Linked DNA regions of Homo sapiens: region 2 is linked to region 1. Evidence: fine-mapped expression QTL. Tissue or cell type: whole blood. Region 1 holds a variant in brackets; the other region holds the start of a gene. All regions are shown on one strand. Distances are between the middles of the regions.

Region 1 (8,103 bases):
TTTTGATCTCTTGCCACTAAGAAAGGCACACAGGCCTTGGCGGGCCTCTGGAGGCTTTGGATGCAACACAGTTCACACTCGGGACTGCTGCTTTGACTCCTGCCAGGATGCAGGGCAAGCAACCTTCTGCTTGGTTCAGAAAATCGAGCACACCCCCTGGTGCTAGAAATAGCTGTGGTAGAGACAGGGCCAGGTGGTGTTTCTAGCAGAAGCCTCGTGAGAGAGTCATAGTGCATAATCTTATGGTCCCAGATCAAGGCTGTGCCTTCCCCAGCAGGGAATGGACATTGTTCCAAAAACAAAACAAATGAAAACTGGACCTTGGGACATTGGGGCACCAAGTGACTGCGTGGCCAGGGCAGTCTGCCACAGGAGCTGGTTCTGTTGGGCCCAAGAAGTCCAACAGTGTGCAGGCCCAAGGCCATCCTTCCTGCAGTAGAAGGATGCTCCAGCACCCACGGCATCCCAGTGCACAGGTTAGCACAAGCAAACTCCTATGTCACCCACTGCTGTGGCTCCAGCATGCTCCCTGACAGTAGCCAAAACCTGCCTCCAGGGAGAGGCTCTCTTTCACCAATGGCTTGTGTTTCCAGGCTCCTGATGGTGTCTCCTGATGCACAGAAGCTCTTAAATTGACTGTAACAAATGAATCAGTGTTTTACCTTATGGTTAACTCTTTTTGTATTTTGTCTAATAAATTCTTCCCAACTCTGAGGTCATCAAGATAGTCTCCTATATTCAGGTCTGCAATCTACGGTAATCCCAGCTACTTGGGAGGCTGAGGCAGGAGAATCGCTTGAACCCGGGAGATGGAGGTTGCAGTGAGCAGAGATTGCGCCATTGCACTCCAGCCTGGGCGACAGGGTGAGACTCCTTCTCAAATTAAAACAACAACAACAAAAAAAACATTCATTCATGAGGGTTCTGCCCTCATGACCCAATCACCTCTTACTAGGCCCCACCTCCCAACACTGTTGCACTGGGGATTAAGTCCAACACATGAACTTTTGGGGCATGCATTCAGCAGATTTGCTTTGTCTGGATATTTCATATAAATGCAACTATACAATATGTGGTCTTCTGTGTCTGGCACAACTTAGCAAAATGTTTTTGAGGTCTTTGTAGTATTTTCACAACTTTTTTGTAAGGTTGAAAATATTTCAAAATGAAAAGCTAAAAATAGAAAACATGGCCGGGAGCCGTGGCTCATACCTGTAATCCCAGCACTTTGGGAGGCCAAGGCGGGTGGCTCACCTGAGGTCAAGAGCTGGAGACCAGCCTGGCTAACATGGTGAAACCCCGTCTCTACTAAAAACTACAAAAATTAGCCAGGCATGGTAGTGGGCACCTGTAATCCCAGCTACTCAGGAGGCTGAGGCAGGAGAATTGCTGACTCCTGCCAGGATGCAGGGCAAGCAACCTCCTGCTTGGTTCACAAAATCCGGAGGCAGAGGTTGCCGTGAGCCAGGATTGTGCCACTGCACTCCAGCCTGGGCGACCAAGCGAGACTCTGTCTCAAAAACAAACAAAAAAAAGAAAACATGAATTGCTCGTGGCCCTTTCCCGCGTGGAAGGGACTCAGTTTGCACCGGGTGGTGACTGGTCTCCTCACTCAGTCCCTTGAGGAGACCAACGCTGGTCTCTGTCACTGGCAGGCTGGAGACTTGGGCACTTGGGTGGCAGATCCGGGTTTGTCTGGGTGAGCCAGAGCCACGATGCTGGGATCCCGCTGGGCCCCACCCCTGCCACTGCTGCTTACTGCTCTTGAGCCCGCCTTGCTGGGCCCAGCACTCGGGGGCCATGACAGAGGCTGGCTGGTGGTCACTGCAGCTGCAACTGGGACTCAACTTTGCTGTGTTTGCAGCAGACTGCTGTCAGCTGCTAGGGATCATTTGCGTTTCGTTGGGCCCAGACTGGAAAATCAAATGGGCATCTATGGCCAGGCGTGGTGGCTCACTCCTGTAATCCCAGCACTTTGGGAGGCTGAGGTGGGCGGATCACCTGAGGTCAGGAGATTGAGACCAGCCTGGTCAACATGATGAAACCTCGTCTCTACTAAAAATACAAAAATTAGCTGGGCGTGGTGGCGGGAGCCTGTAATCCCAGCTTGGGAGGGTATGGCAAGAGAATCGCTTAAACCCAGGAGGCGGAGGTTGCAGTGAGCCGAGATCGTGCCACTCTACTCCAGCCTGGGCGACAAGAGCGAAATTCCATCTCAAAAAAAAAAAGGCACCTATGAGGCAGACGCCACCCTGTGTCTGACCCACTGGGAAGCAAGGCTCCTTGTCATTTCTTCTCTGGGCCTTCCCCACTGTGGCTTCCCAGGCCAATACCCCGTGTGAGGCTTCTGTCAACTATGAAGTGAGTCCTCTTTGATTAGATATCAAGGCCAAGGAAATGGCTGGGTGGAGCTGTGGACCCAGTGGTCCCACTGGGAGCTGGGCCTAGGCCAGGATGATTCTTCTTTCTTCTTTCTTCCTTCTTTCTTCTCTCCTCCTCCTCTTCTTCTTCTTCCTTTCTTCTTCTTCCTTCTCTTTCTCCTTCCTCTTCTTTTCTTCCTCCTCCTCCATTTTTTTTTTTTGAGATGGAGTTTCATTCTTGCTCCTGGAGTATAATGGCACAATCTCGGCTCCCTGCAACCTCTGCTTCCCAGGTTCAAGCGATTCTCCTGCCTCAGCCTCCTGAGTAGCTGGGATTACAGGTGCGCCCCACCACTCTCTGCTAATTTTTTGTATTTTTACTAGAGACAGGGTTTCACCATGTTGTCCAGGCTGGTCTTGATCTCCTGACCTCAGGTGATCCACCCACCTCGGCCTCCCAAAGTGCTGGGATTACAGGTGTGAGCCACTGAGTGCAGCCCTCCTGCAGAACATATTTGGCTGGTAGGTGTCAGGGCCATCACAAACAGAGTACAGCCGACCCTTAAACATTGTGGAGGTTAGAGGCGCTGACCCCTGCACAGCCGAAAATCCACTACATCTTTTGGCCCCTCCAAAACTTAACTACCAATAGCCTACTGTTGACGGAAAGCCTTAGAGAGAACATAAAGAGTCCACGAACACCTGCTTTGTATGGGAAGTGTGTTGTCATACACTGTGTTCTTACAATAAAGTAAGCTAGAGAAAAGAAAATGTTCAGAAAATCATAAAACACATTTATAGTACTGTACTGTATCAATACCGTGCGTTTATGTCATCCATTTACAAGATGAATCGGCTGGGAGGGTGGCACCCGTGGCTGCAGACCTCAATCTATAATACCTATCAAGCAACTTAAATTGTTCTTATCGTCATGACTTTCCTTTGCTTCTTGGAGGCACTTGCAGCATCACTAATGGCACGTTGTATGGGTCCCATGGTGTTACTGAAGATTTACAGTACTGCACCAAACATGATGAAAAAACACAAGAACTGACAGAGATCCCTTTTTTTTTTTTTTTAAATAAAGTCTTGCTCTGTTGCCCAGGCGGGAGTGCAGTGGCACGATCTCGACTCGCTGCAACCTCTGCCTGCCAGGTTCAAGTGATTATCTTGCCTCAGCCTCCCGAGTAGCTGGGATTACAGGTGTGCGCCACCACGCCTGGCTAATTTGTATATTTTTAATAGAGACAATTAAAAGGTCAGCAGGAAAAGGTTTCACCATATTGGCTAGGCTGGTCTTGATCTCCTGACCTCGGCCACCCCAAGTGCTGGGATTACAAGCATGAGCTACTGCGCCCAGCCGAGAGATCCCTTTTTACTGTGATCTACAATTTACTGGAGGGACAAACTGCTCCCTTGGAGCTGATGAGACGCATGGCGCTTTAAGCAGATCATCGCCACTCTCAAGTCCACTGCAGTAACTACAGGAGATGGCTGTGAGATCAGCAGGGCAGTACAGTATGTGCTACGGTCAACTGTA[T/C]GCAGTTATAAGTTTTTTGTCAAACAATTTTAATCCAGTTAATGGTAAGCAAAGTGCAATGCCATGAAAAGCCCTGTATTTTGCGTGTTTAAACTGTTTTTCATTGTCTTTGCTTGTCAGGTTTTGAAGATGGGACCCGCTCCTGTCTTCTTTCTAGTGGTAGAAAATGGCACATATTGTTCTGGGGTGCCACTCACGCTTAACTTATGGTTTGTCCAAAGAATCTGCGAGCAGGAGGTGGTTTTGTTGTTGGAGGATCATGAGTCTGAGTGAAGCAGAGGATGCCACTTGGGAGGCACCATGCTTCCAGCCACATCCCAGAATGTTTTTGTCACTCATTTCAGTATATGTGACCCATCAGTGGTAGCCAAACGTTGCTTGTTGTCTTCATAGTATTTGTTTCCATATTTTTCCTCCCCCACTTATGTGCCAACCCTCCCATCATTTGCCCTGAAAAAAATTCATAACTAGCCATGGAGGCAGCTGTAGCTGCTGACCTGCTGCAAGCTGGGCTTCAGGACCTGCAGTCATTTGGCCTCGTCTTTCAGGCTGCGGCTATATTTATACTGCACCTTTACATTTCTCTTAACTACAAATGTGCCACGTAGTGTTTGCATGTGTAACTTTTGACCAAAAAAACTTTTTTTTTATTTTCTTTTTTGAGATGGAGTCTTGCTCTGTCCCCCACATTGGAGTGCAATGGCGCGATCTCGGCTCACTGCAACCTCCGCCTCCCAGGTTCAAGTGATTCTCCTGCCTCAGCCTCCCCAGTAGCTGGGATTACAGGTGCCCACCACCACACCCAGCTAGTTTTCATATTTTTAGTAGAGACGGGGTTTCACTAGGTTGGCCAGGCTTGTCTCAAACTCCTGACCTCAGGTGATCCACCCGCCTCGGCCTCCCAAAGTGCTGGGATTACAGGCGTAAGCCACTGCCCCCAGTAAAAAACCTTTTTTTTGGAGACAGGGTCTTGCTATGTTTTCCAGGCAGGAGTACAGTGGTGTGACCTTGGTTCACTGCAGCCTCAAACTCCTCGGCTCAAGCAATTCTCCTATCTCAGCCTCCCAAGTAGCTAGGACTACAGGCATGTGCCACCATATCCAGCTAATTGTAGAGACGAAGGTCTCACTGTTTCCCAGGCTGGTCTGAAACTCCTGGCTTCAAGTGATTCTCCCACCTCAGCCTCCCAAAGTGTTAAGATTACACGTGTGAGCCACTGCACCTAGACTAACTTCTAACTTTCTGTAATAGATTTGTGTATATTTTATGGTAGTAAATGATAAAATAGACTAGTACCTACAAATATTTTATGCGTCCATGACATACCTAGCTTTTTCTTAATTTGTTCACTATCTCTAAGGCAACACGGTTCAGTTGTGAGTTTTTTCAAATTGTCACAAATTTCAAAAAAAATTTCCAATATATTTATTGAAAAACCCACATGTAAGTGGCCCCAGGCAGTTGAGACCTGCGTTGTTCAGGGGTCAGCTGCATTTCCACTCTCCCACACCCGCTTCTCTGGGCGTTCGTTCGCTTCTTGCAGAGCTGCCACGGTTGCCCCTAGGTTGCTATTCTCTTCCTTGTGGGCCATGGCTTCCTGGGAAGTTTCAGAGAGCCGACCGAGCTGGCAGCCTACGGGCACTGCTTCCTGGGGGCTCTGCAAGGGTGCTGAGTCCTAGGTCATAGCAGAGCCCCATATGGCCATGCCCTTGTCTCAGGCACACTCCTGCTCCCCCCAGGCAGCTCATCTTCTTTCTTCTCTGGCAGGCCCAGCACCCTCCTGCTGACCTTCTTGGTCCAGGGGCCAGGAGGGGTGGTGAGCACAGATCCTAAGGGGAGGTGGCAGAGGCCTGGGCATGACCTTCAAACAAGAGCAAAGCACCGGCCCTTAACAGGGAGGAGTGGGCTTAGAGGTTTCAGGGTGTGGGGGAGGGTGGCGGGGCTGGGGTGTCCAGGTTTTCTAGAGTTCTAGAGTATCGATCCAGATGTCCCCATCCCAGTGTAAGGGTCCCACATTCCTAACTAGGACAATGACCTTGGTATGGCACACTCGGCTAGGTTGAAAGTTCTACCTTCTTGGAGCTCTGAAGCCTTAGTAACAACCCCATGCCTGATCCCTTCAGCTGTGTCCACCCTCTTGCCTGGCTGCCAAGGAGGCCTCTAACGGATCTCACATCGTGTCTTTTCTAGTGATTAGTCATGATCAGCTTTTCATTATCTTTCTCCGAGGTATCACCTATAACCCCCGCAACATCTCTCTCAAGGTCACAGTCACTCCTCCACTTACACTTCCCAAAGGCCTAGGGTACTCTATTCCCTTCCCCAGTGTCCTGCCCTGGTGCCACCACAGCGAACGTTTAACAGTTCCTCTTTACAGCTGTCCCACTTGCCACAGGTGATGGGGTCATCATGGCCAGCAGTCAGCAGCGAGCCAGCTTACAGTCGGCTTCCTGGGACCACTCCCCGCACCAAGTCTCTCGAGCCAGGTGCCCCAAAGGCAGATTTCAAAGGGCATCAGCACCACTCATAAGGGAGCAAGGGCTACTGGATTGGGCAGGCGAGAGGTGGAACTGAGATGCAGACGCAGCAGAGGCCTCAAGACGACAGCACCGGTGCAGTGGAGCCAGGATGGCTCTTTGGAGATGTCCCAAATTGAGGCAAGGGTGTTGGGGTCTCCATACTCCCATATCGACAAGTCTCCAGACATGGGCTGCCCCTGGAAGAGGGCATAACCTTGGGCAGCTCCCCTCCACTGAACACAATTCCCAGGAAGAGTCAGCTATGAGCTGGCAGCAGCTCTGAACAATGAGTGTCCAACACTCCTGGAAATGGGTCTCAGTCCTGACAGGTATCTGGAGTGTATCACAGCCTCTGTAACTGTCCGCTCAGTCTGGTCCAATCTCCCCGCTTTGGGACAGCCACAGAGAGGTCCCATACATGGTTAGCAGTGGCACACTCAGGCTTAGACTCGCCCTGTTCTCCTGCTCTAGTGTTCCTATAATGCCATAGGTTTACTAAGAAGTGGACCCAGGGGAGGGGAATCCAGGATCAACTGGATAGAGTAGGTTAAATGCAAGGAATGACAGACAGCTGCAAAGTTTAAGGAACATGCCTGTTACTGCACAAGCAAGAATCAAAAAGAAGCCACAGATTTATCTTTTTATGTTTTAAGGGACAGGGTTGGCTGGGTGTGGTGGCTCATGCCTGTAATCTTAACACTTTGGGAGGCTGAGGCAGGAGGCTCGCGTGAGCCCAGGAGTTTTGAGACCAGCCTGGGCAACATACTAAGACCCTGTCTCTACAAATTTTTTTTAAAAAAATTAGCTTGGCATGGTGGTACACGCCTGTAGCCCCAGCTACTCGGGAGGCTGATGTGGGAGGAGTGCTTGAGCCCAGGAGGTGCAGGCTGCAGTGAGCTATGATCATGCTACTGCATTCCAGCCTGAGCAATTCATAGTGAGACCATCTCAAAAAAAAAAAGAGACAGTCTTGCTATGTTGCCTAGGCTGGAGTGCAGTGGCTACTCACAGGTAAAATCATAGCTCACTGCAGCCCCAAACTCCTGGCCTCAAGCGATCATCTCTCTTCAGTCTCCTGCGTACCTGAGACTACAAGCAAAGGCCACCATGCCCGGCAAGATTTAATTTTTCTCATTTTTCAGGCAGTATCTCACTCTGTCACCCAGGCTGGAACACAGTGGTACCATCATGGCTTACTGCCGCCTCGCCCTCCCAGTCTCAAGCAAGCCTCCCACCTCAGCCTCCCTAGTAGCTGGGACTACAGGAGTGTGTCACCACGCTCGGCTAACTTTTTGTAGAGATGGGGTCTCACCATGTTGCCCAGGCTGGTCTCAAACTACTGGACTCAAGCGATACTCCTGCCTTGGCCTTCCAAAGTGCTGGGATTATAGGCATGAGCCACCGCACCCTGCCAAGATTTAAATTTTTTATTACTTGGGGGCTAGGACCTCCTTAGGCCTCTAGCTCTAGAGAGCTCGGACGGCAGTATCTATAGCTCTTGAAGATTCTGCATGTGGTTGGACTCTGTCTTGCGTTATATAAAATCATCTGTTATTACAAGTATAGAACCAGCCTAAAACTTTAAAATTCATGAGAAATGTTATCAGTAGTAATAAATCCAGAAGTAGTGAGCAAGCAGTTGTCTCTGCTACATAAAATGTAGTTAGATCTTAATAAGGATGCA
Region 2 (8,103 bases), 75 kb before region 1:
GATCCTGGCCTCCATCCTGACGGAGTCCGTGCTGGTGAACTTCTTTGAGAAGAGAGTGGACATTGGACTCAAGATCAAGGACCAAAAGAAAGTGGAGAGACAGTTCAGCACCGCCAGTGACCATGAGCAGCCTGGAGTTTCCGGCTGATGCCTGCAGCTGTGAGGCCTGGCCCAAGGTGTCATCAGTGGGGCTGGCCTCATCTCCTCCTGCCTTTCCTCCCTTATCAGTTTCTCTTTAAAGGTGTGCCCCTCCTGCTCTCCCAGGAGCAGTGAGTTGTGAGTGGAAAGAAGGCTGGTGCAGACCCAGCTGCCTTAGACAGATTCCCTGGGCCTGCATCTCCTGGCGCCGGCTGCTTCTGGGCCCAGGAAGAGGCTGTGGCTCCCACCTTCCTTACACCTGGTGGGAGCCCGCCTCGCACCAGCTGCACCTGCCTAGCATTACAGGCTCTCAGATCTGCCCTTGCTTGCCTCATACCTCTGTGCTCCACACTGCGGCCAGGCCAGCTGAGTCCCTCCATCCGTGGATGCTTTCCTGCAGCTATGTGGTATGGGGGTCATTCCTGCCTCTTGGCACCAGGTTGGGGGGCATGTGCTTGTTGGGCACCAAAGTGATGGAACCCTCAGGTGCTCTCCGGGAGCCTGAACCTCCTGACTGAGGAACATGGGCAGAACATGTTTATTGCACAGAGTGGGCGCTGCGCACAGGCGTGGCTGTACACGTGCTCTCAGCTCATCATCCTTTCCAGTAACTTTAAAAAAACATCCCTCAGGTCCTGATATATTTCCTTGGATTCATTTCACTTGGCTAGAAATTACACTGTGCTCAATGCCTTAATAAATCCCTGAAAGAAATAAAAACCACTGTGTGCAATGCCTTGCTGTGGCCCCCAACCACTGCTTAGGCCTCCCAACTTCTCCCCAGGCCAAGTATGGGGCCCTGGCTGTGTTCTGGAAGTTCAAGACACTTAGTCCTCCACAGTGGGTGGAAGAGTGCAAGGTCTGCCAGGTCAGATGGAGACGCAGAACCTGCTGGTGCAAGCTGGGCAGGTCCTGACCAACCTGCATCAGGGGATGCCCTGAGCTCCACAGGTCTTCATGGGCAGGGGTTGTGGGTCCTGGTGAAGGAAGTGCATCCTCAGGCCTGGGCTGTAGCAAGCTGTCTGCCCTTGGGTTCAAGAACCAGACTGTGGAGCCAAAGGTGACCGCAGGGGGCCCCAGGGCTGGAGCCACAAGGATACCCTCACTTTGCATGAGGAGCTGAAACTGACCAGTGTCCAGTGTTAGCCCCCACATGGGGCTGCTCTTGCTTCTACTAAAAGATACAGCAGTTACCCCCTTATCCACAGGGGATACAGTGGATATCTAAAACCAGACCCCCAGTGGATGTCTAAAACCACAGATAATAACAAACCTTATACATACTGTTTTTTCCTATGCATACATACCTGTGATTAAGTTTATGAATTAGGCACCTTAAGAGATTGACAACAATAACTAATAATAAAATGTAACGGTTATACTGTAATGAAAGTTGTAAATGTGGTCTGTCTCACAATATCTTCTTGTACTGTACTCATCTCTTTTCCAGGTGGCTGTTGACTCTGGGTAACTAAAGCTGCAGAAGGTGAAACTCAGGTACTATTGTATATCTCTGTGGCTGCTGTTTTTGTTTTAATTAAGTAGCTTTGTTTTTTTGTTTTTTTGTTTTTTTGTTTTTTGAGACCAAGTCTTGCTCTGTTGCCCAGCATGGAGTGCAGTGGCGTGATCTCAGCTCACTGCAACCTCTGCCTCCTGGGTTCAAGCAATTCTTCTGCCTCAGCCTCCCAAGCAGCTGGGACTACAGGCGTGCACCACCACGCCCAGCTAATTTTTCTATTTTTACTAGAGATGGGGTTTCACCATATTGGCCAGGCTGGTCTCAAACTCCTGACCTCGTGATCCACCCGCCTCGGCCTCCCAACATGCTGGGATTACAGGCGTGAGCCACCATGCCCGGTCTGCTTGTTTGTTTGTTTTAGAGACAGACTGGAGTGCTGTGGCATGACCATAGCTCATGGCAGCCTCAAACTCTTGGCCTGAAGTAATCCTCCTGCCCCAGCCTCCCTAGTAGCTGGGACTACAGGCATGAACCAGCATGCCTGGCTTCAATTTCCTTTCTAGTATTTACACAAAGTACCATAAAATAATTTCAAATGATTTATACCAAAAAGACCATTGTTGGCCTTAATATAATTAAGATATAATAACCCCACATATTTGGCAATTTTAAGTCTTACACTGATTATATTCAATTAGATTTGAATAACTTGGAATTTGGATAAATGGCTTTTTATTTCCCATTTTTTGTCTTTACAGAGGTAAGATAAATGTTTTTAATATATGGAAGTATAAGCTTGTGAATACACCAAAGAAATTAACCAAAGAATAGGAAAGAGGAATCTGGCCTATTCACGTGATACAATGTACGAAAATGTACAATAGTACTTTAATCCATAAATCATTCAACCTGGGAAGATAACTCAAAATGTTTAACAACCAGAACAGTAACATTAAATAATATATAGATAATACAAATAAAAAATTTAAATTTTATAAGTAAACATGAATATTTTAAAACTGCTTACCAAGTAATATAAGTTGCATCAAACCACTCATCAAATCATTCTTATAATTTCCAAGAAAAAAAACTATATACATGAATTTTTAAAGGATTACCGGTTCATTGCCAAAAGGAGAAAAATATACAGAAAAGTAGAACAATTTTTCCTAGTGCTACAGATTACTCAGTATTTTGGTGTTTATTCTGTATTTTTTTTCAGAGTTTAACTGATGTCATATATGAAATTTTTATTCTACTCCTTTCATTAAGCATAAAACATTTTTTGCAGATGCTTTCTGTTCTCAGCCACAGTAGCTCAAACGTAGAAATGAAGGAAAACCACCCAAATGAGAAACAGTATTCAGAGCTTGCTACAGCAAGGGAGTCAGCAACATCCCCGGTGTGGGTAGGCGCAAGGACGCAGGGGGTGGAAAACGGGGAAGGCTCCAGGTGGTTCTGACCGCAGGCTGTTGGAAACTGGAGGTGAGCTAACAAGAAGCAGGATGTTTTCTGTGACTGGTTTGGGGAGCGCTTTCTTGGGTTGGTTCTGACATGGGGAGGGTGGTACAAAAAATAGAGGAGCAAGCAGTCCTGACCACGTCCTTCCCAAGCAGCCGACTGCCCGGTTACTGCAGAGGCTGCAGTCAGTTTATTGTCATTCGTTATCTGACCATTGTCTATTGGCATATTGTCTCTCAATTTTTTTTTCTAACTACTTACTGTACAAAAGTTGGAAAAATTTAAAAATTAGCATTACCTACGACCTTAGCCACACACACACACACACACGCCAGAAAATAATGCCGGTGTCACAGAAGTCAAACGATGTACTGTAATTCTGTAACCTTGCCTCTCCACAGCACGTTGTCACTTCAAACTCAGGTTCTTGCTGATGGAACTGCCTAAGAGTCCGTGCCGTTCTTCAGAACACTGATTTCCATTTCTTCCTAGTATTCTTCAGGGAACACTAGGGAATGAATAATAAATCACCTAGGTGAAGGGATTCCTTTCTTGGGGTAGCAGTATTGCCAGGTTGCTTTCCACGGTTTTGCACTTGACCGTTCTCCCAGCACCCTGTCAGAGGGGTAGCCCTCCCTGCACCCTTGTCAGGATTGGGTGTTTTCTTCAACGGGATGGTTTCTGCTGTTAAAAGCGAGTGTCGGCCGGGTGCAGTGGCTCACGTCTGTAATCCCAGTACTTTGGGAAGCCGAGGCGGGTGGATCACCTGAGGTCAGGAGTTCGAGACCAGCCTGGCCAACATGGAGAAACACCGTCTCTACTAAAAATACAAAAATTAGCTGGGCGTGGTGGCGGGCATCCGTAATCCCAGCTACTGGAGAGGCTGAGGCAGGAGAATCACGCCACTGCACTCCAGCCTGGGCGACTGAGCGAGACTGTCTCCAAAAACAAAAAACAAAAAAAAAACACCTCGCTTTTTTGGTGATAGTCACTGTGTAAAAGTTGGAAAAAAAATTAAAATTACAACCCTAGACACCGAGGGTTGTACGGTGGGAGGTAATTTTAATATTTTTTGTATTTTATTTTCCAACGAGGTTACAACCCTAAGCCACACAGGGTTGCGGCGTGAGCGTCGGGCTGCGGGGGCGCCTCCACCCTCCGTAGGGTGGGCCTGGGACGCTCCCGGGGCTGCAGGGGGACCGGCTTCGCGCTCGGCGGCCGCGCGCCTCCGCCGCCCTCTCCGGGAAGCGTGGGTGTGGTGAGCCCCTCCGTCTCCCCGTATTCCACCCCGGGCTCCGGTTCAAAGGCTAACTGTTCGCTGCTACCTAAAAGCACGGCAGCGCAGGCCTGGCAGGGCGGCCCCTCAGCCCCGCTCCGCGTTGTGTCCAAGGACTGGTCAGCGGAGGCCCTGTCGTCTCAATTCCAGTCTCCCCAGGGCCGGAACCAGTGCCTTAGGAAGATGCGGGCACGGCCCTGGTCAGACGACGAGTCGGCTACCAGGAATCCCGCACCCAGGACTCTTTCCGAGGTCGGAGGGGCGCAGATGACCAGCGAGAGGCGCGGCAGGCTAGAGGGATCCCAGTGCGCAGGGGCGGGGCCGCGGCGGCCGGAGCGAAGAGTATAAGCGCATGCGAGACGGCGTAGGGGACTAGAGGGTTCGGAGCGCGTGCGTGGGGCGGGGCCGCGGCGGGACAAATGCAGAGCGCACGCGCTTGGCTGCCTGGCGACTGCACAAGCAGGGATGGCGTCGCTTCAGCGTTCTCGGGTGCTACGCTGCTGCAGCTGCCGCCTCTTCCAGGCGCACCAGGTCTGGCGGGTGCCAGCCCCCTCCTCCTCCTCCGGCGCGGGGACAGCGGACGGGGAGTGGCGGGGCTGTGGGTGTTGTCTCGAATGGCTCCGGGATGCACCGGGCCCGAAGGAGTGCAGGGACCGCTGAGGGCGGGTCTCATTGGGGTCGCCCCCGCATAACGTTCTGAGCTTTTTGTTTGGTTCTTGTACAAACCAGAGGTAATGGTTCTGCGGAGGTGGCCTCTTGTGAATTGTAGCAGGTAGTGGGAGAATCCGGTTGAGTATAGCATCCTTTACGCAGAGCCTACCCCACGAAGTAGCGCTGTCGCAGTTTCAGTGAGAGGGGGAGGACGGTTCTTAGAGACCGAGCGCGCCGCGGCGGCGTCCCTGCTCCACACCTGGGCGCCCTCTCCGTCGCCCCGCGCCTCTGCCGCCGTCCGTTTCCGCGGGGCCAGGGACTTGATATGGCTGTTCGCCGACGCATAAACCACGGGCCCCGGAGTCTTAAAGACAGATAATCTGTGTTTCTAGGACATATTTGCCTCCCTAACTTTCAGCGTGCCAGATAGAGAATGCCACTTAACCTTTTCCGGATCGCACCTGTCTCCCTGCTTGATATCACTTAACACTGCAGTCACCGTATCTGCTTCTGATAGTCCCTCCCTCCTAATTATTGGTAATCTGCTATGCCCTGAGAAAGAATAGCATCAGACTTCTTCTTCTTTTTTTTTTTTTTTTGAGACGGAGTTTCGCTCTTGTTGCCCAGGCTGGAGTGCAATGGCGCGATCTCGGCTCACCGCAACCTCCGCCTCCCAGGTTCAAGCAATTCTCCTGCCTCAGCCTCCCGAGTAGCTGGATTACAGGCATGCGCCACCATGCCCAGCTAATTTTGTGTTTTTAATAGAGACAGGGTTTCTCCATGTTGGTCAGGCCGGTCTCGAACTCCTGACCTCAGGTGACCCGCCTGCCTCGGCCTCCCAAAGTGCTGGGATTACAGGCGAGAGCCATTGTGCCCGGCGTGGATCAGACTTGTTTAAGAGGTATGTTAAAAAGTCAGCAAGATGCTGAGTATGTGTCTGTAAGCTTGCATTTAATGCTAAGCGTTTGTAAGGGCCATTTTAAGGGCTCAGAAACTTTTTACTTATTTTCTTTCGGGAGCTGGGTCCTAAGAGTTGCAAATAAAGGGAGATCATTTGCATTTTTAAATTATTCCACGTCTAATGTTTCATGCTGTTTTTTAAAAACAAATTTTCCGTTTATTTTTATTTCCTTTTTTTGTTTTTGAGACAGAGTCTCACGTCTCACTCTGTCGCCAGGCTGGAGTGCAGTAGCGTGATCTCGGCTCACTGCAACCTCCGCCTCCTGGGTTCAAGCGATTCTCCTGCTTCAGCCTCCCGAATAGCTTGGATTACAGGCGCGCGCCACCAAGCCCAGTTAATTTTTGTATTTTTAGTAGAGACGGGGTTTCACCATGTTGACCAGGAAGGTCTCCATCTCTTGACCTCGTGATCTGCCCGCCTCGGCCTCCGAAAGTGCTGGGATTACAGTGCTGGTGTTACGGGTGTGAGCCACTGCGCCCGGCCTCTATTTCCTTGTTTGTTTTCCTGTTTCACTCTTCCATGTTCACCAGTGTTATTTATTTATTTATTTACTTATTTATTTTGAGACAAGGTCTCGCTTTGTCGCCCAGATTGGAGTGCAGTGGTAACAATCACAGCTCGCTGCAACCTGCATCTCCCGGGCTCAGCTGATCCACCTCAGCCTCCCACGTAGCTGGTACTACAGGTGTGGGCCACCATCCCCAGCTAATTTTTATATTTTTTGTAGGAATGAGGTTTCGGCCGTGTTGCCCAGGCTGGTCTGGAACTCCTGGGCTCAAGTGTTCTTCCCGCCTTAGCTCCCAAAGTGCCGGGACTACGGGTGTGAGCCAGCGCCCCTGACCCTCGTGGTCATTTTCAACCTTATGAAATGTGAGTTGCTTGGCCCCGGTGGCTCACGCCCATAATCTCAGCACTTTGGGAAGCCCACTAGGGCAGATCACTTGAGCTCAGAAGTTCCAGAGCAGCCTGGGCAACGTAGCGAGACCTTGTCTCTACTAAAATTCAAAATAAAATAGCTAGATGTAGTGGCGCGCATCTGTAGTCCTAGCTACTCAGGGTCGCTGAGGCAGGAGAATCGCTTCAGTCCAGGAGGTAGAGGTTGCAGTGAGCCGTGTTCACACCACTGCACTCCAGCCTGGGCGACAGCCAGACCCTGTCTCAAAAACAAAGAAAAATTACTTGAAACCAAAGAGGACGGCAAGTCGGCTATGTACTACTTTAATTTTAATTGCAAGTCGGCTGTGTACTACTTTAACACGTTTAACTTCAACAACCTTTGACTTAGGCATCATTCCCATCTTAGAGACATGAGAATTCCGAAATACACGGGAATCAAGTGGTTTCTCCATCTAGGGAGTGGCAGAACCATACTATCTCAGCAGTTCCCACAATTAATTCCTTTACCAGGTTCTGTGAGTCCTAAACTTTTAAAAAGGCTTTTCTTGGCCGGGTGCGGTGGCTCACACCTGTAATCCCAGCACTTTGGGAGGCCGAGGGGGGCAGATCATGAGGTCAGGAGTTCGAGACCAGCCTGGGCAATGTTGTGAAACCCCGTCTCTACTAAAAATACAAAAAATACAGGTCGTGGTGGCGGGCACCTGTAATCGCAGCTACTTGGGAGGCTGAGGCAGGAGAATCACTTGAATCCAGGAGGCAGAGGTTGCAGTGAGCCGAGATCACGCCACAGTGCTCCAGCCTGGGCAACAGAGCCAGACTCTGTCTCAAAAAAAAAAAAAAAAAAACAACTTTTCTTACTTGTTTATATACTCATAGAAAATCCACAGTTTTATTGGTGTTTTAAGGTAGAAGCTGAGAAGTAAAATTGCTAAGTCATTACCCAGTTCAATTTTTGGTAGGTGCTCATTGTCCTCCTTAGAATCCTTTTGGATACTTCCCCCGAAAACCTCATGATTTTGTATTAGGATCATATTAATCGTATTAATGTTAATGGATCAACCTAGACATCTTTGTGGTGTTAAACATGATCCATTACGTTTCTTCAAGTAACCTTGGTATCCCTTGGTAACATTTTATTTGTTGCTGTTATAAATGGACTCTTTATCAATTATGTGTTCTAATTAGATGTCTGCTCATATAAAAGCTATATTAATTTTTGAAGGTATCTTAATTTTGTACCTAACCACTGTATTAGACTAT

The links. PIP is the estimated chance that this variant, and not a neighbour inherited with it, causes the effect.
Region 2: MRNIP starts here. The variant in region 1 is fine-mapped to the expression of MRNIP in whole blood (TOPMed, PIP above 0.99).

What each region holds. Positions count from the first base shown.
Region 1 is chr5:179,780,713-179,788,815 of GRCh38, reverse strand. It overlaps the pseudogene LOC100884169. Among named protein-coding and RNA genes, the nearest start is that of LTC4S, 9.2 kb to the left of the region's middle. The variant T/C (reference allele first, on the strand shown) is at 3,901.
Region 2 is chr5:179,855,493-179,863,595 of GRCh38, reverse strand. It overlaps MRNIP (MRN complex interacting protein), which reads left to right and starts at 4,779. Exons shown (of 7, transcript NM_016175.4): 1 at 4,779-4,865. The coding sequence starts at 4,800. It overlaps TBC1D9B (TBC1 domain family member 9B), which reads left to right. Exons shown (of 21, transcript NM_015043.4): 21 at 1-1,525. The coding sequence ends at 148. MRNIP-DT (MRNIP divergent transcript) reads right to left here and starts at 4,593. Exons shown (of 2, transcript NR_134283.1): 1 at 4,384-4,593; 2 at 2,313-3,566. RefSeq lists silencers at 4,218-4,347, 5,248-5,357 and an enhancer at 4,418-4,617.